Linked DNA regions of Homo sapiens: all the other regions are linked to region 1. Evidence: fine-mapped expression QTL. A gene starts in region 1. Each other region holds a variant in brackets. All regions are shown on one strand. Distances are between the middles of the regions.

Region 1 (6,080 bases):
TTTTTTTTTTTTTTTTTTTTGACACAGTCCCACTCTGTTGCCCAGGTTGGAGTGCACTGGTGCCATCTTGGCCCAATGCAACCTCCGCCTTCTGGGCTCAAGTGATCCTCCCGCCTCAGCCTCACAAGAAGCTGGGACTACAGGACAGCGCCACCACGTCGGCTAATTTTTGTAGAGCCTGGGTTTCACCATGTTGCCTAAACTGGTCTGGAACTGCTGGGCTCAAGTGATCCGCCCGCCTTGGCCTCCCAAAGAGCTGGGATAACAGGAGTGAGCCGCGCCCCGTGTAGAATTTCAACACATGAATGGGGAAGGGGGCAGAGAACACAAACATTCAGTCCATAACAGCCAGGGACTAGAAGACTTTGGTCCACCATAAAAAGCAGGACTTATGTTTCATGGATACCAGTATTCCCACTTATCTATAGGGTGGAGAATATTTAGGACTTTGCAGATTCATACTGATGGTAAGCATTATTATTATTATTATATATTTTTTGAGACGGAGTCTTGCACTGTCGCCCGGGGTTGGAGTGCAATGGCGTGATCTCAGCTCACTGCAACCTCCACCTCCCGGGTTCACGCGATTCTCCTGCCTCAGCCTCGCGAGTAGCTGGGATTACAGGCGCACACCACCACACCTGGCTAATTTTTTGTATTTTTAGTAGAGACAAGGTTTCACTATGTTGGCCAGACTGGTCGCAAACTCCTGACCCCCTGATCCACCCGCCTCGGCCTCCCGAAGCATTATTTTTAATCTATGGTTCAGAGTCAGTGACATTGCCTCTCTGAAGCAGGTTTTCCAAACGAAAACGACAATGAAAGCCCCAATTCATAAGACTGCAAAATGTCTTCATTTATCTTGGTGAACTGGGAGGAGGAGGGGACCTGAGGATAGAGACAGTATATACGTAAATGTAAGAAGCACTTTTGAGCTTTCTATATTGTACACGATGGGGAAAAAGCACGTTGTTCAGGGATCTCTGGCTCATTGTATAAGATGGGGTAGACAATACCATGTAATTCTTTATTCGAATTGCTTTGTCTTGCTGCATGGCTTTGTCATCAGCTGATTTTGCAATTACCTTAACAAGCAAAGGAAATGCCAGTCAAGTTCAGCATCTGGGACCTCCTCACCATTGCAACATGTCAGGCCTCAGGCAGGAGACAAAAATGCCCAAGGCTGAGTGTGAAGCCCAGGTAAGAAGTGAGACAATGGCTTTGAGCCTGGGGTGTAAGCATGCCTTGTTCCCAAGGCCAGTATTTACATGTGGGGTCACTTCCACCTTTGGTACAGTTAATCAGGCGCTGATTACGTTCCATGGCATCATCCTGACTTCAGGACTTTGTAGGAAAGCTGAGGCAGGACACTGCTCAAGTGCATTTGACAGTAAGATGCTTTGTGCAGCCAGATGTTAATTCCACTTGCCCTTACGCTTGCTTACGCTACACCGTAAGCGGGGCTGACCCTTATGGAGCTGGGCTTTTCTTCGCCCGGAGACTCTTGTCAGATAAGGCTTAGAACTCCGCCAACCACTTAGGCTTTTAGGCAAAACGCGATGCAACCCTTCTTAGAAGGCGGGTCACTGCTCTGCACCAGCTGCCAGCCAGAGAGACAACAAATAAAAATGGAAGATCCTTCTCCGTGAGAAAACAGGCCTCGGACTCAAAGCAGGGGGCCTGAGGGGAAGGTGAGCAAAGAAAGGCAAGGCGAGGGCGCTGCTTCAAGAAGCCGGGTTCATTCAAACCCCGAGGACAGCAAACCCCGCCTCCCCACGCCGCCGCCCGCTCAATCGCCGAGCGCTCCGGGTGTGAGCTCGCCCCGCGGGGAGCGGCTTGGAGCCGAGGAGGCGGCGGCAGAGGTGGTTTGGGCAGCCCCGCGCGGCGGATAGGCCCAGGCAAACAACACCCATTCCCCCTCCTCCTCGCTCAGTTCAACTCCCACTCGGCCCCGGCCACGCCCTGCCGCCACCGCCCCCTCGGGCAGCTTTCCGCTCGGCAGCCAGGCCTCGGTCGGGGGCGGGAGAGAGGCGGTGCCTCGAAGAAGGCACCGCGACCGCCGGAAACTACGAGTACCGACAGCCTTCGCGGTAGTGCCCCACCCCCTTTCTCCCACCACTCAGCGCGCGTCACCCTGGGCTCAGCCAATGGAGACAGAGCCAGGGAAAAAGGGCGCCCGGGTCCGGATGCGCCTCAGGAAAGCCATGCTCCCTGCGCGGGGGCAGCGGGCAGTTCACCCAGCGCGCCGACCTGTTGGTGGTCCGCGCGCGCCCACGTCCGCCGCTCTCGCTTGCCTGGATCAAGGGCCCTACTTTTTTCTTTAGTGGCAATTGGAGGGATTGCTGGAGGGGGTTTTTGAGTGGAGGGCGCTGGGAAATGAGTAGGGGGCGGGATATCCTGAGACAACAAGTTTGGCTGTATGGAGGGCCTACCGGCAGCGCTCCTGAGCTAGAACGCCGAGAGAAAGAGCGCCAGAGGAGCCAGGGAGGAGGAGAAGAGCTGCTAAAGGAATAACCCCGAGAAAGGGGGTGGAGAGGAGGCGGCCCCAGCGCCCCGGCCCCCGGCAGGTCGGCGGCCAATCCGCTGGGGGAAGGGGTGGAGAGTCGGAGGCTCCGGCGGAGAGAGGCCGAGGGGGGTGGGGAGTCGGCCAGGCTCGCACCGCCCTGGCCCCGCCCCCGACCCGCGCCGCCGCCCGCGCCGCGCGCCGCCGCTGTCAATCAAGGGCGAGTCAGCCGGGCTCGGGCGGAGAGAGGAGCTGCTACGCCACAGCCCAGCGGCGGCCATTCGCGGAAAAAGAGGCAGAGCCTGTGCCAGCTACAGCCTCCTCCGAGCCACCGCGGGCGGGCGGGACCGGCCTCTCCTCCCGCCTCGCCCCCACCCCCACCCACCTCTATCCCAGTGTCTCCGTCTGAGGGTTTGTCCTGTTAATGCGGGATGAGCGGTACGTATTCTCCACCCCCCTCAGTCTCCTTCGCCGCCTCCCTCTCTCCCTCCCTCCCCAGACCCTGCTCGGTTCTCCCCCCTCCCCCGGGGCCGCTGAGATGCTTTAAGGGGAGGAGGAGAGGGCGGGAGGGAATCGGGGAGGGAAGGAGGGTTGTGTTTTGTCTTAATGTCTGAGAGAGAACAACCTCCTTCTGGGTGTTGCTCTGGAGCCGATGGGTCGGGTTTCAAACCACGTTTTGTGATATCCCCCTCCTCCCTTCCCTCCTTCTCCCCCACCCCCTGCCGGTGTGCGTGGATCGCGGGTTTATGGAGATTAATGTTCGGGGGGAGGGGGGAGAAGAGGAGAGGAAGAAGACGAATAATAATAATCCTAATAACCTGTTGTCGTGTGTGTGTGGTGGGGGGGTTTGTTGCAGATCAGAAGAAGGAGGAGGAGGAGGAGGCGGCAGCGGCAGCGGCGATGGCTACAGAAGGAGGGAAAACCTCTGAGCCAGAGAATAACAATAAAAAACCCAAAACCTCAGGCTCCCAGGTAAAAGCAAACAAATTAAAAAAATTCATCACGACACATTAGGAGAGAGAGGGAGTTATGCCCTTTGAATGTCCAGAAGTAACAGAATAAAATGTTTATCCACTCAAAGCATCTTTCTGAGAGTGTGGAACTTAAATTGTAAATTCATCAAGTTTTCACCTCTTTGAGGGTATAACGCTGTTTAAAATTACATCAGGAATTCAGACTATAAGAAAACGGTGTGTGTGTTCCCAAGGGCATTTTGAGTTTAGGAACATAACACTTTACAAAGTTGTAAAGAAATTTCCTTTTATTTAAACTTGATATTATAGGACTTGCTTCCTTATTCATATAGTTCTTATCTACTTTTGTTCGTATTTCTTTTTGATTTCTGCTGCTTCCTAAATTGTTATGTAGAGCTGTCAAAATAAGTAACCCCCTGGCAACTACTGGCCTCCACTAAATCCGCCCACTTTTTTTCCCCCCCCCCTCTCCTTTACCGTCCCATTTTGGGTAGGACTCTCAGCCCTCTCCTCTGGCTTTACTGGCAGCTACTTGCAGCAAAATAGGGACTCCTGGTGAAAATCAAGCAACTGGACAACAACAAATTATTATAGATCCAAGTCAAGGATTGGTGCAACTTCAAAATCAACCACAACAGCTAGAACTGGTAACAACGCAACTTGCTGGAAACGCTTGGCAACTTGTTGCCTCCACTCCTCCTGCTTCAAAAGAGAATAACGTTTCTCAACCAGCCTCTAGTTCGTCTAGTTCTTCCAGCAGTAATAACGGGAGTGCATCTCCTACAAAAACTAAATCAGGTAATTCTTCCACCCCTGGTCAATTTCAAGTCATACAAGTACAAAATCCAAGTGGTAGTGTACAGTACCAAGTAATTCCACAACTTCAGACAGTGGAAGGTCAACAAATTCAAATCAATCCAACTAGTAGTTCATCTCTACAGGATTTGCAGGGTCAAATTCAGCTCATTTCTGCAGGTAATAATCAAGCTATACTCACAGCTGCTAACAGGACAGCTTCTGGGAATATTCTTGCTCAAAACCTGGCAAATCAGACAGTTCCGGTCCAAATTAGACCTGGTGTTTCAATACCACTGCAGTTACAGACTCTTCCTGGTACTCAGGCTCAAGTTGTAACAACCCTACCAATTAACATTGGAGGAGTGACTCTAGCTTTGCCAGTGATAAACAACGTGGCTGCCGGAGGAGGGACTGGGCAGGTTGGCCAGCCTGCTGCTACTGCTGATAGTGGGACTTCCAATGGGAATCAATTAGTTTCCACACCCACCAACACCACTACTTCTGCCAGTACTATGCCAGAATCTCCCTCCTCCTCCACTACCTGCACAACCACTGCTTCAACGTCTTTGACAAGCAGTGACACATTAGTGAGCTCAGCAGATACTGGCCAGTATGCAAGCACATCAGCCAGTAGTTCTGAACGCACCATTGAAGAATCTCAAACACCTGCTGCTACTGAGTCTGAAGCCCAGAGCTCCAGTCAGCTTCAGCCTAATGGAATGCAGAATGCACAGGATCAATCAAATTCTCTTCAGCAGGTGCAAATTGTAGGCCAACCTATCTTACAGCAGATCCAGATCCAACAGCCTCAGCAACAGATCATTCAGGCTATTCCACCACAGTCGTTTCAACTCCAGTCAGGGCAGACGATTCAGACCATCCAGCAGCAGCCTTTACAGAATGTTCAACTTCAAGCAGTAAATCCGACTCAGGTGCTTATCAGGGCTCCAACTTTAACACCTTCAGGGCAAATCAGTTGGCAAACTGTACAGGTTCAGAATATTCAGAGTCTTTCAAATTTGCAAGTTCAGAATGCTGGGTTATCCCAACAATTAACCATCACCCCAGTGTCTTCAAGTGGTGGCACAACTCTTGCTCAGATTGCTCCTGTGGCTGTTGCTGGTGCCCCAATAACTTTGAATACTGCCCAGCTTGCATCAGTGCCTAACCTTCAGACAGTGAGCGTTGCCAACCTGGGTGCTGCAGGTGTTCAAGTGCAGGGAGTTCCCGTTACAATCACTAGTGTTGCAGGTAAGTTCTGACATCTTTTTAAGTACCTTTTAAATAGTTTTTCATAACAATTATTGCTTTTCTCTCCTAATTCTAAGGTTTGACGTAGACCTCTGAAGTAAACACACAATCATAAGGAACCAGAAATAGCAATATTATACTAACAAACATAGCTCTGTAGTAATCAATGTGACATGTTCACTTTTGTAGATTTTATAATAATGTGTTAAATTTGTTAGTTTTTTAAAAAGTATTGTTTTATGGGACAGAGCTTTCTGATTAGAATCATAATTGCCTTCTGTAATTTAGTGGTCTTATTTGAGTACATTCCAGCTCTTCAGAAAGAACCCTAGTCGAAATGATATTTATCTCTTCTTTGAGGGAAAGTAGTTTTAAACTGAATTGGTATATATAATTGTGAGTCTGTTGAACTTTTAATTCTGTGGTGTAATAAGGCTAACTTTTTTTTAGTGGAAGTTATTTCTCAAGCTTCAGCATCTTGTCGCCCATGCTTTTGTGTTTTATTACACTGGTTTTAAACTAGATACTGATGCAGTTGAGAGATAATTTTAAGT
Region 2 (6,080 bases), 86 kb after region 1:
AAACAGATAGTTAACTGATGATAGGGATAATACTGTATTTCCTTAGCTTGATTTTTGGAAAATCAACCGAAAATAGTTTGGCCGTCTTTTCTAAATGTTAGAAATTCTTCAACAGTTGAATTAGGTAAGTTCCAAAACAGTAATCTGAGATGCATCTCAGATCTTTATTACCACTACATTATAGTAGTGTGTATGCAGACAATCAGTGAAGTCCAATTACTTTCTCCATTTGGAGACACAAGAGGAACATAGAGTTAAATCTTAGGTTAAATTTTAGGTTGACACCTTAGGAAAATGCTGGGAAAAAAATGGTTAAAACAAAACTCATCATAGCTTCAGAAAAATAAAATGAGGCATCTTAACATGCAATGTTCTAAAGTTAGGATTGATTATATTCCTAACCCTAGGTTGAACCACAAAATTTCATTTAAAATGTTTATATTTGGAAATATTTGCATAGAGTGTAAATTGTTCTGTAGTTTCATATTTTGTAAATATGAGTTATGTTGACAATGTGCAGAATTCTTTATGCTTTGATGTGGTAGCCAAAGAAAGAATTACACTTTTTTCCAAGGCCAGCAGAAAATTCTCTTTTAACTACATTGTAATTCTTGTTTTCCTCTACTAAAAATTGGCCAGTCCCATTTTATTTCTAGTGCTATGTAAGAAGGTAATTAGGAATTATAACACAGTAATGTTTTTATGTTACATCAATAACTGAATTTTCCCTAAAAATTAGCCTAATATATAATAGATATATTATGAAGCAAAACTTTTATTTTTGAAAAGGCAGAATAATTTTCAGTGAAGTAAGTGACTAAAGAAAAAAACTATATTATTGTTTATGCAAGGGTCTTACAGGAAAGGGTCTTTTTTTTTTTTTTTTTGAGATGGAGTCTCGCTCTCTTGCCCAGGCTGGAGTGCAATGGCACGATCTCAGCTTACTGCAACCGCCGCCTCCCAGGTTCAAGCGATTCTCCTGTCTTAGCCTCCTGAGTAGCTGGGATTAACAGGCGCCTGCCACCATGCCTGGCTAATTTTTGTATTTTTAGTAGAGACAGGGTTTCGCCATGTTGGCCAGGCTGGTTTCAAACTCCTGACCTCAGGTGATCTGCCCACCTCGGCCTCCCAGAGTGCTGGGATTACAGGCATGAGCCACCATGCCCGGCTAGGAAAGGGTCTTACTAGGAAAGATGGCCAAAAGTTTCATATGAAAAAAATTGGATTATAAACCAGTAACTTAAATATTAATAAGGATATTTTATGTTTTAAAAAAGTATTTACACAGAATCATAATCAGTGAAATTGACCATTTGAAAACTAAAAGTTTTTACCTACCTGCTCAATTTATTAACATCATTGCTTTGGGGACTGTTTGAATATAGGTACGTGTTTTCTTGTGCATTCTCTATAATTTCAGGAAAAGTACTAATGCGAATTCTCTTCCAAAATTGTGATGTTTCTTGTATTTTTGATGAAGGAGAAATACTGTAATGATCACTGTTTACACTATGTACACTTTAGGCCAGCCCTTTGTAGCGTTATATAAAACTGAAGGTCTTTTGTGCTTTCAGTTTGTATAAAAAAGCTTTGAGATTAAAGGAAAAAAAAAATTTTTACACTGTGGTTATAAATTTCAAGTTTCTTAAAGCTTTTGTAGACTTGTAACAGAGTCTTTAAATTTAAGTTGGATTTTGTAAATTGTTTTGTATATTTTATTTAATGTACTCTTAACAACTGATGTATCTGGCTTTAAAACATCAGAATTGGTTTGTTGTTTTGTTTGGTACAGAGGAGCATTTGGTAGTGTTCATTTTAATTTTATTATATAGGAGCTGAAACATCAAATATATATTTTATCTATCATTATGCTACACAATCAGTGCTATAAATTTTTTTATGCAAAGAAACTTTCTTAATGTTTTAATCATGTTTCCTCAGAGTGACACTTTTTGTTGTTGTTAATACCAAGTATGAACACTCTGCATCATTATTCCATGAACCAGTTCTAATGCAAACCTATGTATGTCCATTAGAAATGGAAGTTATTTTTTAATCAACAATGAGGCCTATTATAAATTTATCAGATGAATCTAGATAGCTTTATAGCATATAAAATATGTTAATTTGTGTTAGCAGGTGCACATTTCACCACTGAAATTAGAAATATTTTGACAGTCTGTTCTGCATACCATTCTGAGTCTACTTTTCTGTCTTTAGAAGAATCGTAAATTTCAGTGTCCTTTATTTGACTCAGTGGGATATAGCTGTTATAAGTAATAGGGCACAGATGTGCAGTAGAGTCTTGTTTAATGGCATTTCACTGTTCATTCCCTTTACCACCGTTATAAAACTTTTCTTTATTGTAATTATCAGTGCAAAGCTATGTATTTATCATGGTAAAACTCCAGTGTTAGAATAGTTTTTTCTTACAGTATACTTTCTTTGGTTAGGTTTGTGTATGTGTTGCTGATTACATTAGAACTTGATGTTAAGTCATTTATCACACTCTCATGAGAGCAGTAATAAAAGTGTGTAATCTAGGAGAAAAAGTTAATTTGTCAAACTTAGATAAGCATGATGTTTAGGTCCTATTTTTCAATTTTATAACTGTTTTATTGCAACAATATTTGTATTTAAGTCTCCATTTTAATGCCTTGTGGTGTTTTTTTATGCATGTCACTAAGTTGTCATCCCACATAAATTGATGTGCAGCATAGGGTATTAAATCTACATAATGATTTTAAAACAGAAATAGTTGATGGTAAAATGTAAATGTTTTGCAAAAATTCCTTATAAAAAGTTTTGTAGTAACATTTCACTTGTAAATTTTTTTTG[T/TAAA]AAAAAAAAAAAAATGAAAAAAAAAGATGAATCCAGAAAAAAACCTGTTTCCCATATTCTAGAATTTAGACAATTATTCTGCCAGCAAAGCCTCTGGGGCTGTAATTGACATTTTTACAGTGCTGATTTGTATAAAATTTGTTTTTTGTGGATTTGGAAATAAAATCATGTACAAGTTGTTGCCTGCAATAACAATTGCAAGTAACCTATTAAAAATTCCCTTGAGTTTAACATGTTTCATTTAATTATGTATACTATAAAGCAGCAATAAATTATTTGAACTATCAACCTACTTATCATGAACACTGGAGAGTTAAATGCTTCTCACTGGAGAACACATTGGCCACCGTTCGTAATTCCTCGTATTGAGATCTGGTCACCATTTCTCTGAACATACCGCCAAAGAACTCCAATTCAAATTGCATGTTAATTTGTAGCCATTGCTCTAGACATTTATGGAAATTAAAATTTGATTTAGAGACACTTTTTACTTAAATATTTTAAGCAATCAATGTTAGGAAATTATAGGAAGACCTGAAAACGAAAAACATAATTAAAATATTATTTAAGCTCACAGAATCACTGAGAAGCAATATAGGCCACATAGATGCCACAAAGACTACAAGCAGAAACTGTCTTCCTCCTGGGAGAGCCCTGCAAATCTCATGAAGACCTTTAGTAACATAATGAATACATTATTGTAACAACTTCAGCTAACACATTTCCAGACTCACACCAGATATAGACATAGCAAAGCGAGGGTTTGGCCCAGGGTGGCGGAGGTAGGATGTTAGGCAGCAAGAGAAGTACGCTGGCCCACTGACAGAAGACTCCAAAGACTCTAGGTTTTAGGTAGTAAGCAGGGGCTACAAGGTGTTTGGACAGAGAACCTTGTACAGCAAGGTCCTAAAGGCATAGTTGTGTTACAACTTTGTAAAATAATGTGTTCATAACACTGACTGAATCAAAGAATTTATGCTACTCTGTCAAATAAGACAGTAAGGAATTGTCAAAGGATGTTTTCTATCCAAAGTAAAGATACACTTCAATTACCTGAAAAATTCGCATTAGAAAGCATCAGGATGATATCGTATAAAAGGGGATAATGCAGGCCAGGCGAGGTGGCTCACGCCTGTAACCCCGGAGCTTTGGGAGGCTGAGGTGGGTGGATCACGAGGTCAGGAGTTCAAGACCAGCCTGGCCAACATGGTGAAACCCCATCTCTACTAAAAATACAAAAATTAGCCGGGCGTGGTGGCGTGCGCCTGTAGTCCCAGCTACTCGGGAGGCTGAGGCAGAATTGCTTGAACCCAGGAGGTGGAGTTTGCAGTGAGCTGAGATCACGCCACTGCACTCCAGCCTCGGCAACAGAGCGAGTCTCTTGTCTCAAAAAAAAGGATAATGCAATTAGAAAATGTCATTGTGTTTTTCAATTTTTAATATAGTTTGCTTCTTGTACTTCTAGAAATTTCAGCCACATGAAAAAGACAATAATAAAGAAAAAGGGATAAATCACCTTGAAAATTGACAAAAGCTGTTGGTGTAGTAAGTTAGGAAAGCTGAAGCAGTGCTAAAAGCAATACTAATAGGGTGTGGTTTACAATGCCATTGGTAATGACAACTTGAAAATAGAAAAATATACAGTATTGTTTATTTTTTAATTAAAAGTTCAGATGCTTAATTTCAGGGGTGCAGAGACTTCAAGTGTCACAGCAAACTTGAAATACTTTATTCCTTTGTGAAACTGAATAATATATTGCTATATTTACTGCCTGAACAGTAATGTCTGCTTAATATACACACAACCAACTTGTAATTCGGTAGCAGGACTTTTAAGGCATGTATTTTCCATTCTTTTAAGATTGGCTGATTAGCATAAACCTTGGGCTCTGTTCCTCTTAGTAACAGGTGGCAATGAAATAATTTATTTTTGGATACCTGAGAGTAATGTCAAGCAGAAATAGTGGAAGGAAGGAAGAGAGAAAGGAAAGGAAAAGGAGCATAAAGGCCTATTTATAATGCAGTGGGTTGATCTCCCTGGTTAATAGCTAAGCACCGTGCCAAAAGAGATCAACGGAGAGTCTGAGGATTTCAGGCTGGATTCCTGGTTCAGCCACTTAGTAGGCACACAACCGTGGGCAAGTTATTGAACTTTTAAGCACTTATTTTTTTCTACTTCATAGAATAAAAGAGCAATGCTTATTAATGTTAAGCATTATGAATAATACATAGGTCTGTTAAGATCAAACAAGAAAACTATATTGAGTAACACATAGTTGTGTTTAATACGTTATTATTGTTAATTATAAGTTAACCCAAAAGGCAGACGGGTGTCTTAGTCCATTCGGGCTGCTATAACAAGATAAACTAGACTAGGTAGCTTATAAACAACAGAAATTTATTTCTCACTTCGGAGCTAGGAAGTCCAAGGTCAAGATTCTGGCAGATTCAGTGTTCATTTACTGGTTCATAGATGGTGACTTCTAGCTGTGTCTTCACATGGTGAAAGGGACAAGACAACTTTCTGGGGCCTCTTTTGTAATGACGCTAATCCCATTCATGAGAGCTCTACTGTCATGATCTAATCATTTTTCAAAGGTTCCACCTCTTAATATCACTGGTAATATTATTGGTAATTGGGTTTCAACATGAATTTTTGGGGGGCACAACTGCTCAGACCATAGCAGGGGGCATGGAATAGTTCCCACCTGGACCAATGCTGAAATGTCTTGAAAATGGGCAACAATACATCAAAAAGTTAATTCTCAAATCCCATTTTAAAAATGAAATTTCAGTGGGAATTTCCAAATTCAAACATATTTTTCTCAAACTGTGAGCTACTTTGCCATACTCTACCTCAAAATTTTATGACAGTCTTTTTCCAATTCTAAGAAAAATAAAAGGTTTAAATCTTAGTTACTTTCTTCCCCCCCCCCCCTTGAGCCAAGGTCTCACTCTGTCACCCAGGCACACACCACCATGCCCAGCTGGTCCTGGGCTCAAGCGATCCGCCTGCCTCCACCTCCCAAAGTGCTGGAATTACGAGCATGAGCCACTGCGCCTGGCCTAATTCCTAATTTTTAAATGTTAATTACAATTACTGTTTGCCTACCTCAAAGTGATAACAGACAAGCACACCGGTGAACAAGAAGCAAACCAATTACTGAAAAACAGAAACAGCTGCTCATGTGTTGTTCACTAACTTTTGTGGGTTTATGTGTGGATGATTTTCTATATTTAAA
Region 3 (6,080 bases), 71 kb after region 1:
ATTTAACCTACTCGGAGTTCATTGAGCTTCTTGGATATGCAGATTATTATTTATTTATTTTTTTTTCAAATTGGGGAAGTTTTTACCTATTTTTCAAATATTCTTTCTTTAAACACCTTGGAACTAATGAGTCTCTCAGCCTGTGCTGAAAGGTTCTGTGTGCATGTTGCAGCTTGCCTTCAGCACTCAGCCAGTCATTTGACATCTCTGCCTTAGCCTTCACTTTCTGCTTACCTAGAGCCTCAGGATTAGGCACAGATTAGTTAGGGCCTTCTCATGCTATTCTGAGCAGGCTCACAGCACTAAACGTGTGTGACCTTCTAAACATGTATGACCTTCTAGATTCCTGTGTATATGTCACAGGTTTTTAAAGCTCTTCTGAATCTCTTAGCTCTCAGCTAGCTTTTCCTTTAAAGCCTTTTGGTTAGTCTATTGTTTGTCCCAATTATTATCCCCTGTCTTGGGCATCCATGAAGTTAAAATACTTGCTTCTAATTGTTTTAGACAAACACATGCCCTGCCTTACATCTGGGAGAAGGCATTTCTCATGGGGCTACTTCACAGAGTCAGATTAAATATGACAGTTTTATAAGTGGAGTCTTCAGGGAATGATTATTTGGGAATTAGGCTTTGAAAGAGCCTCAGCTGTGTTCCACCCCCTCTAGTGGCTGCCAGATGGTGCCAAGAATTCAGGCTGTTATTTTTCAAGGCTGCCACAGAGGTGGGGAGTGGAAAATGAGACTAGTAAGTTAAAATACTACAAAGCTTGCTGTTCTTACAGAAATTCAGCCATTTTTCTTGAATAAACACTTCCATGGATTGCTGCAAGCCTTGATTAATTGCCAGAATCTGAAATGGTTGCTTTTGACAGTTTTTTTCCCATAGGTTTTTGTTGCTTTTATGGAAGAGCAAAGTTTTGGAGGTTCTTCACCATGGTCAGTGACATCATTTCTTGGTTTTGCTCTTGCCCCCTCTTTCTTTCTGAAGCATCATAAGGATTAGAATGATCCTTGTGTTGATGAGTTCTCTTTGTGACATGTTGAATGATGCTGTCTGTGGCACATCCAGGAAATGTCTAATTCACAGCTGAGTTTCGGAATCTGGATCTTGATGTAGTCATCTATTTATAGATGATAGTTAAAACAAAGTGGATTAAATAGCCTAAATAAAGCATTTATAATGAAATAACCAAAGAGCTTCTATATTTGAGTTGATAATTGCTACAGGAAAAAATGAAAAATCACTCATTATGCAGATTGGTGTCCCTATAAATTCATGGTCTCAAATCTCAACCAGTTTCTCAGAACTGCCTATCAATCTTAGTCGTCTTTGTCAGTTTTCTCATTAACTTAATTATTATCTAAACCTCCTTAAGTCTTCTTATATCCCTTGTCACTCCCCTTCAACCTCGCCTTACTCTCAGTTTTCTACTTAAAGAAAATTAAAGCATGACTTCTCTCAAATTATCATCTTTCCCCCCTTATTACAACCAGCCCTCCTTATATGTGGATTCCTCATCCTCAGATTCAGCCAACTAGAGATTGAAAATTTTTGAAAAAATAAAAACTGTAAAAAATAATACAAATTAAAAATAATATAACAACTATTTATATTAGTCATAAAAGTAATCTAGAGATGATTTAAAGTATATGGGAGGATGTGTGTAGGTTATATGCAAATACTGTATGCACCATTTTATATAAGAGACTTGAGCATCAAATGATTTGGGGATCTACGGGGTCCTGGGACCAATCCTAGTGTATACCAAGGGCAACTATCTACTTTTACCCCCAGGTAAATGATACTGGAAAATGTAGGGTACTCATGAAAAGACTTTAGATATTCTAGGCCGCGTAGGTAAGAAAGAGTGTAGGAGGGACTGATAGACTGGGAGTAAGGTAGGGGTGTTTCAGGAACTACATGGCTCTCAGTTTGAATAACTTGAGTCCTTACATTCAAAAATGATTACAGTTAACCCTTGAACAACACAGAGGTGAGGCAAGTCAACCCTCAAGCATTTGAAAATTTGCGTGTAACTTTTGACTCCCCTAAAACTTAACTACTAATAGCCTGCTGTTGACTAGAAGCCTTAATGATCATAGTCAATTAACACGTATTTTGCATGTTATATGTATAATAAACCAGATTCTTAAAGTAAACTAGAGAAAAGAAATCGTTAGGCCGGGTGCGGTGGCTCACGCCTGTAATCCCAGCACTATGGGAGGCCGAGGCAGGCGGATCATGAGGTCAGGAGATCGAGACCATCCTGGCTAACACGGTGAAACCCTGTCTAAAAAAAAATACAAAAATTAGCTGGGCACAGTGGCGGCCTGTAGTCCCAGCTATTCGGGAGGCTGAGGCAGGAGAATGGCAGGAACCTGAGGGGCAGAGCTTACAGTGAGCCGAGATCACGCCACTGCACTCCAGCCTGGGCGATGGAGCAAGACTCTGTCT[CA/C]AAAAAAAAAAAAAAAAAAACTGTTAAGAAAATCATAAGGAAGAAAGAATATATTTACTATTCATTATGTGGAAGTGGGTTTTCATAAAGGTCTTCATCTTTGTATTCAAATTACGTAGGAATTTGAGGAGGAAGAGAAAGGATCGGTCTTACGGTCTCTAAATGCCACACATTTAAAAATGTCCCTTTAGTGGGTTGAATTGTTTCTTCCAAAAAGATATGTTTAAATCCTAATCCTAGTATCTGTGAATGTGACCTTATTTGGAAATAGGGTCTTTGCAGATGAAATGAAGTTAAAATGAAGCCATACTGGATTAGGGTGGGCCCTAAACTCAATAGCTGATGTCCTTATAAGAGGAGAAGACACAGGGGAAAAGTCCAGGCAAAGACAAAGGCAGGGATTGAAGCAGTGCAGCTACAAACCAAGGAATGCCAAGGATTGCCAGCAGTCAGCAGAAGCTAGGGTGAGGCAAGAAAGGACTCTTCTCTAGAGTCCTTGGAGGGAGCAAGGCTGGGCTGAGATCTTAATTTTGGACTTCTGGCCTCCAGAACTGTGAGAAAATAAATTTATGTTGTTTTAAGCCACCCAGTTTGTGGTATTTTCTTATAGAAGCCCGAGGAAACTAATATATTACCTTAATTTGCTCTTGAAATTAATTTTAATTTATAAATATGGAGGTATATTATCAAATGACAAACTTAGAAATAGCATTAGTAATTTAAAAAGTATGTTTCATACATTGTCATAGCTTAGTTTTGAGAGTAGCAATTTGAAAAACAGATTATAGGCAGAACTCTGACAGTTAGATAACTGACTCTTGATAGGTGCTTCAGATACAGAAAGCTTAAAAGATCTGGTTTATTCCACTCATCCATTCCAATCTATCATTCCATTTGAAATCTCAGCAAATTTTTTCCAAGGGAAATTACTGTTAAGAATATTAAAATAGTAAGTAGTCGAATGTAGTTTCTGGAACATTGTATTTAAATCCTTTTAAAAGACTACATTTTCTTAATGTGATAAAGCATGGTATTCTCTTAGATAATCTAGGCAAAAGGAGCATTTTTTTTCCTATACTCAGTTTATTAAAAATTTCTTGGGATACATTGAGATTTTCATGAAGAAATGAAATTTGAAATTTGTTCTTGACGTACTTTGGATATTTGTAATGAAGATGTTTTACATATCTTGAGCCATATATTAGGTCAGCTATAATTTATTGGGCTTTAAATTTTTTATAAGGTTATATCATATGTAACTAGATTAGTTTTCTATTGCTGCCACAACAAATTACCACAAATTTAGCCGCTTAAAATAACACACACTTATTACCTCATAGTTTCTCTAGGTCAGGAGTTCAAGGGGCCTCAGCTGGGTGCTCTGCTCAGTTTCTCACAGAGCCAAAATCAAGGCTTTGGCAGGACTGCATTCCTTACTGAAGACCCTGGGGAGAAACCTGCTTCCAAAGTCGTTTGAATTGTCAGCTAAATTCAGTTCCTTTCTGTTGTAGAATGTAGGTCCTTGTTTCCTTGCCAGCTGGCAGTTGGGAGCCTCCAGTGTTTACACTTGGAGGCTGCCCACACTCCTTCTCATACTGTCCATGTGGCCCCCTCCAGCAACAGCAGGGCACGTTTCCCCTCACTATTCTAATCTCCCTGATTCTAGCTAAAGAAAGCTCTTCGCTTTTAAGAATTCATGTGATTACATTACGCACTACTGGATAATTCAGAATAATATCCCTATATTAAGCTCCATAACTTTAGTTAGATCTGCACAGTCCCTTTTACCATGTTACTTAATGTGGGAAACACACATTCGCCTGTCTGAACCCAAAGACTGCACTTGGAGACACAAAGAACAGCAAAAGCGAGACTTTTAATGGTGGTCTTGCAAGATGGGGCGTATGGTAGGCAGGCACACCCAGGGCAGTTACAGCAGTTAATTTACCTCCTAGCATGCAAATCCCTCCCCTAGTTCCTCATAGGTCGAGTATTACAGGGTTACAATCTTCCCGGACATCATCCAAGTTTCATTATCCCCCTAATAAGGGTGTAATCTTCCCTTCCCTGCTTAAGTTTCGATTTCCCAATAATGAAACTTTCTTCGCTTTTATGGGCTGACCCCTTCTCTACATTCTGTTTGCTCATTGTGACCTTCTAGGTGCGTGAGCCGTGCAGTTTGTTACATCCGCAGGCTGGTTGCCAGTATATTTAGATTTATCATGCCTTGAAAATAGATCATTTAAAACATTTTCTCACAAAGTCCCTCCTCTTTTCTGTTTACTTCCTTCGGTCTCATTTTCATCTAAATCCTTTTTGTCCTTGAATTGCTCTAGAAGTCTTTTACTTTCTCCATAGGAGATTGAGTTTAATTTTGTTTCTAATAGTACCAGGTTATTTTGCTGGTTAAGTCATGGGCATTTGTTTATTAATAGCTGTTTTAATCTCTGTGCTAGTCCCCCCACACAAGGGTTAATACAAAAATCCCACTGCTGTTAAGACTTCTGCCACAATTATGAGAGATGTAAGGATTGAGGGCTACCATGTCTTTCCATTTTCCAAACCAATCTTCTAGCCAACCCATAAATGGGTCATCAATTCCAGCATTTTCTGCCAGTTCATTGGCTAGAGTTGTTGGTCTTCGTAAAGCTTTTCTGATGGTCCCATCTGGGGCAGTATTGTTGGGAATGAAAGTACAACATTTCCCACCCAGCATAACACATACGCCCCCTTTTTCTGCTAGTATCATGTCTAGCGCAAGCCTGTTTTCCCAGGCCATTTGGCTGATGGCATTTAGCTGGCTAGCCACCCCTTTGAGGATGTCCCGAGTATAATCGATGAATCTCTGTTGATTATAATAGATGTAGTTAATCTAGTCCACATTCTTAATAGTTGACCACCAGAAGAGTGCTGACTTAAACCGAGCTGCTATTTGGTTTCGGGCCTTAAATTCATTAGGCACCCCCCCCCCCCCGGAACTCCTATAGAGTTAACATATATATTGGGATCAAAAGATACGTCAAATCTCTCCGGTTTTGGTAGCCGTGTGTATTTTCGGGTATCTTATGGAATACCAGGATGAAGGGAATGGCCAACTGGACTAAAGCACAAGTCCCAGTCCAATTGGACGGTAACAACTTATCATCCTTTTTTCCCACAGTACCACCAGACATCAGCCGTGGTGTATGGAGAGCTGAGTAATTGCCATTGCCTGACTCAACCTGTGATGCTTAGGATGTGGGTACAAGTTGAGAGTTCTCCCATGGGCTTATTGAACTCTGCCCCCTGCCTGGAGAGGCAAGAGGAGTAGTTCATATTCCCTGTAGAGAATGAGGGGTTCTGACCTCTCTCCACAATGCGGGAAAGAGCAATGACAGACTCTTACAAGTCTCATTTTCCCATGCATCCTTGTCTCGGTATAGAGCCAACATGCAACACATTACTTCAGGATCAGTATTCCATCCTAGGGGAAATGGAACCACCCATGCCTGAGGTCCTCCCGCAGCACATGCATAGTAGTTACTCTTGTTGAGGGCTTGTACCAAAAATGTGACCCACTCAACCCAGGCATTCACATCCCCATACCCTCAGTTTTTAAGGTTTGCTTTACATCCTTTACCTCAAT
Region 4 (6,080 bases), 40 kb after region 1:
TTAGTTCGATTATAGCCATTTAGTAAATTGAGTAAGTGCGAGTGATTATTGTGTGGCAGGTATTCTGGATTGGGGATGGGAAGGATGGGCATAATACCTTAACAAGGATTCCCTCTCTCCTACCCTAGAAAGTCCCTTCTTTAAGAAGTTGACAGCCTGGACAACATAGCAAGACCTTGTCACAATAAAAAATTTAGCTGGGTATGGTGGCACTTGCCTGTTGTCCTACTGGAGAGGGCTGAGGCGGGATGATTGCTTGAGCCTAGGGGTTTGAGATTACAGTGAGCTATGATTGCACTACTGCACTGCAGGCTGGGCAACAGAGCAAGACCCTGTCTCTTAAAAAAAAAAGGTTTAATTAAGGCCCTTCCTGATCTATCCTTCCAACCCTATCTTTAGCCCCCTCACCTCCTTGAACTTTAATCTCCAGTGGTATGCTGTCTCAGGGTTATGTCTTTAAATATAGCCTTCCCACTGCCTTCCCATTTGCCTTTATTCTTTCCACCTGTCAGTGGATTCATCTCCTCTGTGAAGCCTTCATTGTTTCTTTTTGACAGTAAATCACTGTCCTCTCTGTTAAGTAGGCATTTTATGCACATTTTTGTTATTGTGCATATTATAATTATTTATTTGAGTGTGTCTTCCCTACAGGTGAGGGCTTCTGGTCAGATCTTATTTATCATTTCTCCAGCAGCATTAAGCACATAGCAGGTACTCAGTAGAAGTTTGCTGTATGAATAAATCTCACTTCTATACTAAGTCCACATCCAAAGTGCTAGGACTTAAGGAAATGTGAATGGCTGTTAAGTATTTGTACTTAATACATTTGCAGTTTGTTTTACTGGAGTTAACATTCCTCTTGAGTGTTTATCATATTCCAGACATTATGCTAAGACGTGTGCTATATACACTATTTCAGTCAACTCCCACAGCTCCCAGGTCCTCAAAGGAAGAAACTGCAGGGAGAATCAGAACTCAGAAACAGGTCTGCTTGACCCAAAAGTTCTACTTTCGGCTCTACTAAACTGTTGCGCCTGTTCAGTAACTCAATATTGGTTCACAGATTGTACATAACCCATAGTATGTTGATAGTCCTGGAAGTCATTGGCTAATGGGGTTCACCTTCATTTAAGAGATACAGAAGGTACTCGGTTATTTCTTAATATTTTCATTTATAGTTCATCTACAGGAAAACATGTCATTGAAGCTCTTCCATAAGGCAAAGAAGTATTTTGTAATTAATAAGCATAATTTTCAAATCTAGGATTTTTTTTTTTTTTACCACCAGTGTACCATGGAATCTCTCTAGTCATATGTCTGTCAAAACTGTCACAGCCTATTCCCAAATGTATGTAGCTCTCTTTTCAAAGGCTTTAATTCAGTCATATAGTTTCTGTTTTTGTGGAGACTCATGTAGTTTTTATAGGGATCACACAAATGTACCATATTTTAATTTTTCATATGTTTTGTTATAGCTGTTTATAATGATATGAATGAGAGGCATAAATGTTAGTTGAGTTATTCCAGTGCTGAGTTTCAGTGGATTTCTTAATCTCAGCATTATTGACATTTTAGGCCAGGTAATTCTTTGTTTTTGGGGTCTGTTTTGTGCATTGTAAGATGTTTAGCAGCATCCCAGGCCTCTACTCACTATATACCAGTAATCTCACACTTTGTGACAACCAAAAATGTCTCCAGACATTGCTGAGTATCTCCTGGAAGGCAAAATTACCTTCATTTGGGAACCACTGGCTTAAAGGTACTTAGAGCCAACAAAAGTAGAATTAAAAAAAAATTTTTTTTTAAATCTAGTTACCTTTAAAAAAACAACTTTATTTATATATATCCATACCATATTATACAACAACTTCAAGTGTATATTCAATGGCTTTTGGTATATTGATAGAGTTTTGCAGCTATCACCACAATCTAGTTTTAGAACATTTATATGACCTCATAAAGAAACCCTTATTAGCAGTCATTCCCCATTTCTCCTTTCTATCCTCCCCAGCCCTAAGCATATTTGGTTATCTTTTTATGTTTAGGAATATACATCCTGCTTGCTTATTTTAAGTCAGATCATTATGTAAACCAAATCCTATTTTAGAGTGTGTTTATTGAAAGTTATTTGCAATGTTAGGAGACATATTTTTTGAGAGGACCTTAGACATTTTCTTAGGCAGATTCCAAGTTTAATCTGTAAAGGAAGTCAATCTAGGTAGGCTCAGTTAAGAATCATTTTAGTATTATTCAGAACAGAAAAAATCCCACTGCCCCCCATGGCAAGTTTTGTATCATAGAAATCAACAGCTTTTGTTTTTCCTGATCAGTTATATTAGAAAACCTTGTTCCCTAGGTTATATGCACAAAACATAATTAAGAAACACATGTACTTTGAACCTGCTGTATGATTATTATTAAATAGGTCAATTTCAGTTTATTGGTTGGTGAGTTTATTTATAGGTAGATAGATAAATAGTTTTGTTTTTCAAATTTGCGGATCTGTCTTACTTACAGAGTAATGTTACTTACTATTTACTATAAGAAAAAACCTTGCAAATCGTCTTTTCCAAAAGAAGAAATAAGGCACAGTTGGATTATTTTGTGTACACACACGCATCTGTTTTAAATTGTGTTCATTTCTGTCCCTATTCCTAAGCTAACAGCACCTTATTTTAATTACTGTAGCTACCTACATATCTTTATTCTACTATTCTGCTTTTTCAGACTTTTCTTAGCTGATTTTTCACATGTCAAATTAGCAGACTTTCATGGAAAAGTTTCGAATTAAATTTGTGATTGCATTCACTTCCTAGAATAATTTTGGAAGAATTGACACATTTAGTTTAATGATTCTTCCTATCCAAGAACATATATTTCTCTCTTTTGAGGTCTTGTTTTATATCCTTTATTAAATCTTCCTCAAGATCTTGCATATTACTAATTAGATTGATTTCTCAGATATTTGTGGTTATTGTTGCTATTATGAATGGAATTTTTTTTTTTTCTTTTTCAATTGTTTGTTGCTGATATGGTTGGGAACTGTTGCTTTTTTATGTTGCTCTTGTATTTGGCCATCTCGCTGATGTACAGATGTCATATTATAATAATTTGTTGATTTTTCTATAGTTTTCTAAGTAATATAATTATATCTTTTGTAAATCATGACAGTTTCGTTACTTCCTTTTAAGTCTTTATTTCTTATATAGATCTGTTATTTCTTGCCTTACTACATTGGCTTAGACCTTAAGGAAATGTACAGTATTAGAGGTGAGAGCAGTAATCACTTCTATTAGAAACTACAGTGAGATATCCAATTTTTTGTTTATTAAATGATTTTATACATTTTACTGAATTTCTCATGCTCCATGAGATGAAACAGCATTCTCCCATACTTCTGGTGGAAATGTAAATGAATGCAGCTCTTTATATATACTCCTGTAATTTTATAATCTAGATAGTCTTACAAATGTTTCATGTCCTTTGATTTAGTAATCTCACTTCTAGGACTATCCCTTGGAAATAATAAACAATATTTTAGTTCAAGTTGCTCATTACTTTATGTTACTTATAATAAGTATTTGGAAATAAATATCTAACAGTACAGTAATGGCTTTGTAAATTATGGTATATGATGAAATATTGCACAACTATTAAAATAATTTGTAATATTAATAACTTAGAAGTACTTATATTACTAAATAAGTAA[AAG/A]AGGATAATACAGAATTTTTATATAGTAAAGTTGTATCAGCATCAAAATACATTGAACAAAGATTAAAACAGAACTTAGATCATCACATCAAAATGATAATAGTGGTAATCTATGGGTAATTACTTTCTGGATGATTTCATTTCCTCATTCATAGTTTTCTATGGTGAGCATGCTTTGTTCTTAAAATCAGAAGAAAAAGAAACTTAAAGTGTATGTGTTTGTAATACTAAACTATTTATTTTCATCAAAATAGGTAGAAAGGGAGAAATCTTAGCCTATTCCCTAAATGGCAAGTTTAGTTATAATTTTTTTTTTTTTTTTTTTGAGACGGAGTCTTGCTCTGTCGCCCAGGCTGGAGTGCAGTGGTGAGATCTCCACTCACTGCAACCTCCGCCTCCCGGATCCAAGTGATTCTCTTGCCTCAGCCTACCAAGTAGCTGGGACTACAGGTGCCCGCCACCACACCCGGCTAATTTTTTTGTATTTTTAGTAGAGACAAGATTTCACCATATTGGCCAGGCTAGGACTAGTTGGTCTCAAACTCCTGACCTTGTGATCCACCTACCTCGGCCTCCCAAAGTGCTGCAATTACAGTCATGAGCCACCATGCTGGGCCTATAATTTTTTAGAGTTAATATTTTTATAATACTCTTTTCAAAAAAAAAACACCTTGCTGAATGTAGATAGCAAATGTCATAGGAGAAATCTGATACCTGAGAGAGTAGTACATAGTTTCAGAACCAAGGTTGAGAGTTATGCTCTGGGATCTGCTTCTAAATGATCTGACTGCCATATCAGTGAGTCAGGGAGGAAGTGTAGCAGATATCCACTTGATTTGGTTTCTTACTGTCTTGTCACCCATGTGCATGTGTATTGTAAACTAGCTGTCATTTAGCAGCCCTGTGATATACTGCTGGCCGAGTTTCGTAAGAAAGCTTCTATGTTTGTATAGATTTTAGATTATCATTCGCTTTATTTAAGAAACATTCATTAAGTACTTTCAGTGTGTCAGGAACCTTGGTAGCCAAAGGACAAATGACATAAAAACCACACAGATGGCCTCTTTCTTGAGCAGCTTTTGTTGGAAATAATTTATGACTAATATTATGATGGAGTGAGATGGTGTCTTACTAGTAAGACCAGAAATACTTAAATTCTAATTCAACCAATTCTTGAGATCCCTTAGGGAGCTAGGTATACCAAAATTCAAGTTAGAATTTGTTGGCTTAGGCATAGGCCCCTGCCTCACAATCCAGAGAACTAGGTTATTCTATATGGAATATGCCTTTTTCCTTTACCAGCTAAACCTGACTTTCCTTTCTACGTGTTAGCTTAAATTCAAGTCGTCTCAAATTTTACTACTCTACTAAGGCAAAAAACTACTGGTACTAAAAGAAAATGAGCAAGAAATGTCCAACAAGCTAGATCTTGTTGAATAGTTAGCAATTCAGATGTCTTACTACCTACCAACAAACTGTCCCCCTCCATTACCTTGGCCCAGTTTCTATATTTGGAAAAAAAAAAAAAAAAAAAAGCAGAACAAAAAAGGAATAAGAAAGATGGCTTGGCTGCTCCAAGCAGCCTTGGAATGTTTTACCTCTGGTAATGTGGAAGAAAAATAAAAGAACGGCCATCCTCAGTCTGTTTCACCATAATGTGTAGTTACAATACCAAGAAATTTTGAGTTATTAAAAAAATTATTTTACAAAGCAGTTTCATTGGTAAGAAGGATTAAAGACTAAAATCTGTAAGATGAATAGACTTTTGTCAGACCAAGGGAGATGGAGGTTTGGGGTGGGAGAATGTGTTGGATTCCAGCTATATTATTCAAATGCTCGGAGACACAGAACATTAGAGAAGACAGGAGTTCACTGTAGGTGATGGTGAGAGTGGGCATGGAGCAGGAGTGCCAAGAGATGAAGTTATAAAACTAAGCAGGAGTTAGATCATGAAGAACTTTATGTACTATGCTAAGAAATACTGACCTTATTGTGAATGTATGGAGGGCCCATTGGCTTTTTGGGGAGCTAGGTCTGCAATATGAATATTAGAAGGGGCAAAACTGGTGATAAGGGCTTGCACTAGTGTACAAGCAATAGGTATGGTGAAAATGGAGACATTTGAGATATTTTGAAGAGGTAGACTTAACAGGGACTTATGATCAACATAGATAATGTATATGGTGGAAAGAGAATAGCTTTTTGAGTTGGATAAGTGTGGGTTCAAATCCCAGCTCTGTCACTTTTCCATTTTAGGATCTTGGATGTTTTACATACCCCTGAGAACCTTAGTTTTCTCATCTTAATTGGGACAGTAAGCTGGGTGCCATGGCTTGTGCCTATAGTCCCAGCTACTTGGGAGGCTGAGG

Alleles and levels. Alleles are on the strand shown, and positions count from the first base shown. SD is a standard deviation of normalised expression in the study named. Not every link is listed here.
In carriers of allele C in region 3, the expression in prefrontal cortex of the gene that starts at base 2,766 in region 1 tends to be higher than with CA alone (moderate effect, 0.45 SD a copy in ROSMAP).
As copies of A replace AAG in region 4, the expression in CD8 T cells of the gene that starts at base 2,766 in region 1 goes down (small effect, 0.29 SD a copy in CEDAR).

What was found. PIP is the estimated chance that this variant, and not a neighbour inherited with it, causes the effect.
Region 2: its variant is fine-mapped to the expression of SP4 in whole blood (INTERVAL, PIP above 0.99).
Region 3: its variant is fine-mapped to the expression of SP4 in prefrontal cortex (ROSMAP, PIP 0.95).
Region 4: its variant is fine-mapped to the expression of SP4 in CD8 T cells (CEDAR, PIP 0.90).

What each region holds. Positions count from the first base shown.
Region 1 is chr7:21,425,318-21,431,397 of GRCh38, forward strand. SP4 (Sp4 transcription factor) reads left to right here and starts at 2,766. Exons shown (of 6, transcript NM_003112.5): 1 at 2,766-2,941; 2 at 3,360-3,475; 3 at 3,972-5,526. The coding sequence starts at 2,935. RefSeq lists silencers at 1,700-2,089, 2,470-3,059.
Region 2 is chr7:21,511,693-21,517,772 of GRCh38, forward strand. SP4 (Sp4 transcription factor) reads left to right here. Exons shown (of 6, transcript NM_003112.5): 6 at 1-3,130. Among named protein-coding and RNA genes, the nearest start is that of DNAH11, 28 kb to the right of the region's middle. The variant T/TAAA (reference allele first, on the strand shown) is at 2,839.
Region 3 is chr7:21,496,625-21,502,704 of GRCh38, forward strand. The region is part of intron 5 of SP4 (Sp4 transcription factor); the gene reads left to right. Among named protein-coding and RNA genes, the nearest start is that of MIR1183, 29 kb to the left of the region's middle. The variant CA/C (reference allele first, on the strand shown) is at 2,455.
Region 4 is chr7:21,465,524-21,471,603 of GRCh38, forward strand. All of the region lies in intron 3 of SP4 (Sp4 transcription factor), which reads left to right. MIR1183 (microRNA 1183) reads left to right here and starts at 5,535; the gene lies at 5,535-5,623. The variant AAG/A (reference allele first, on the strand shown) is at 3,710.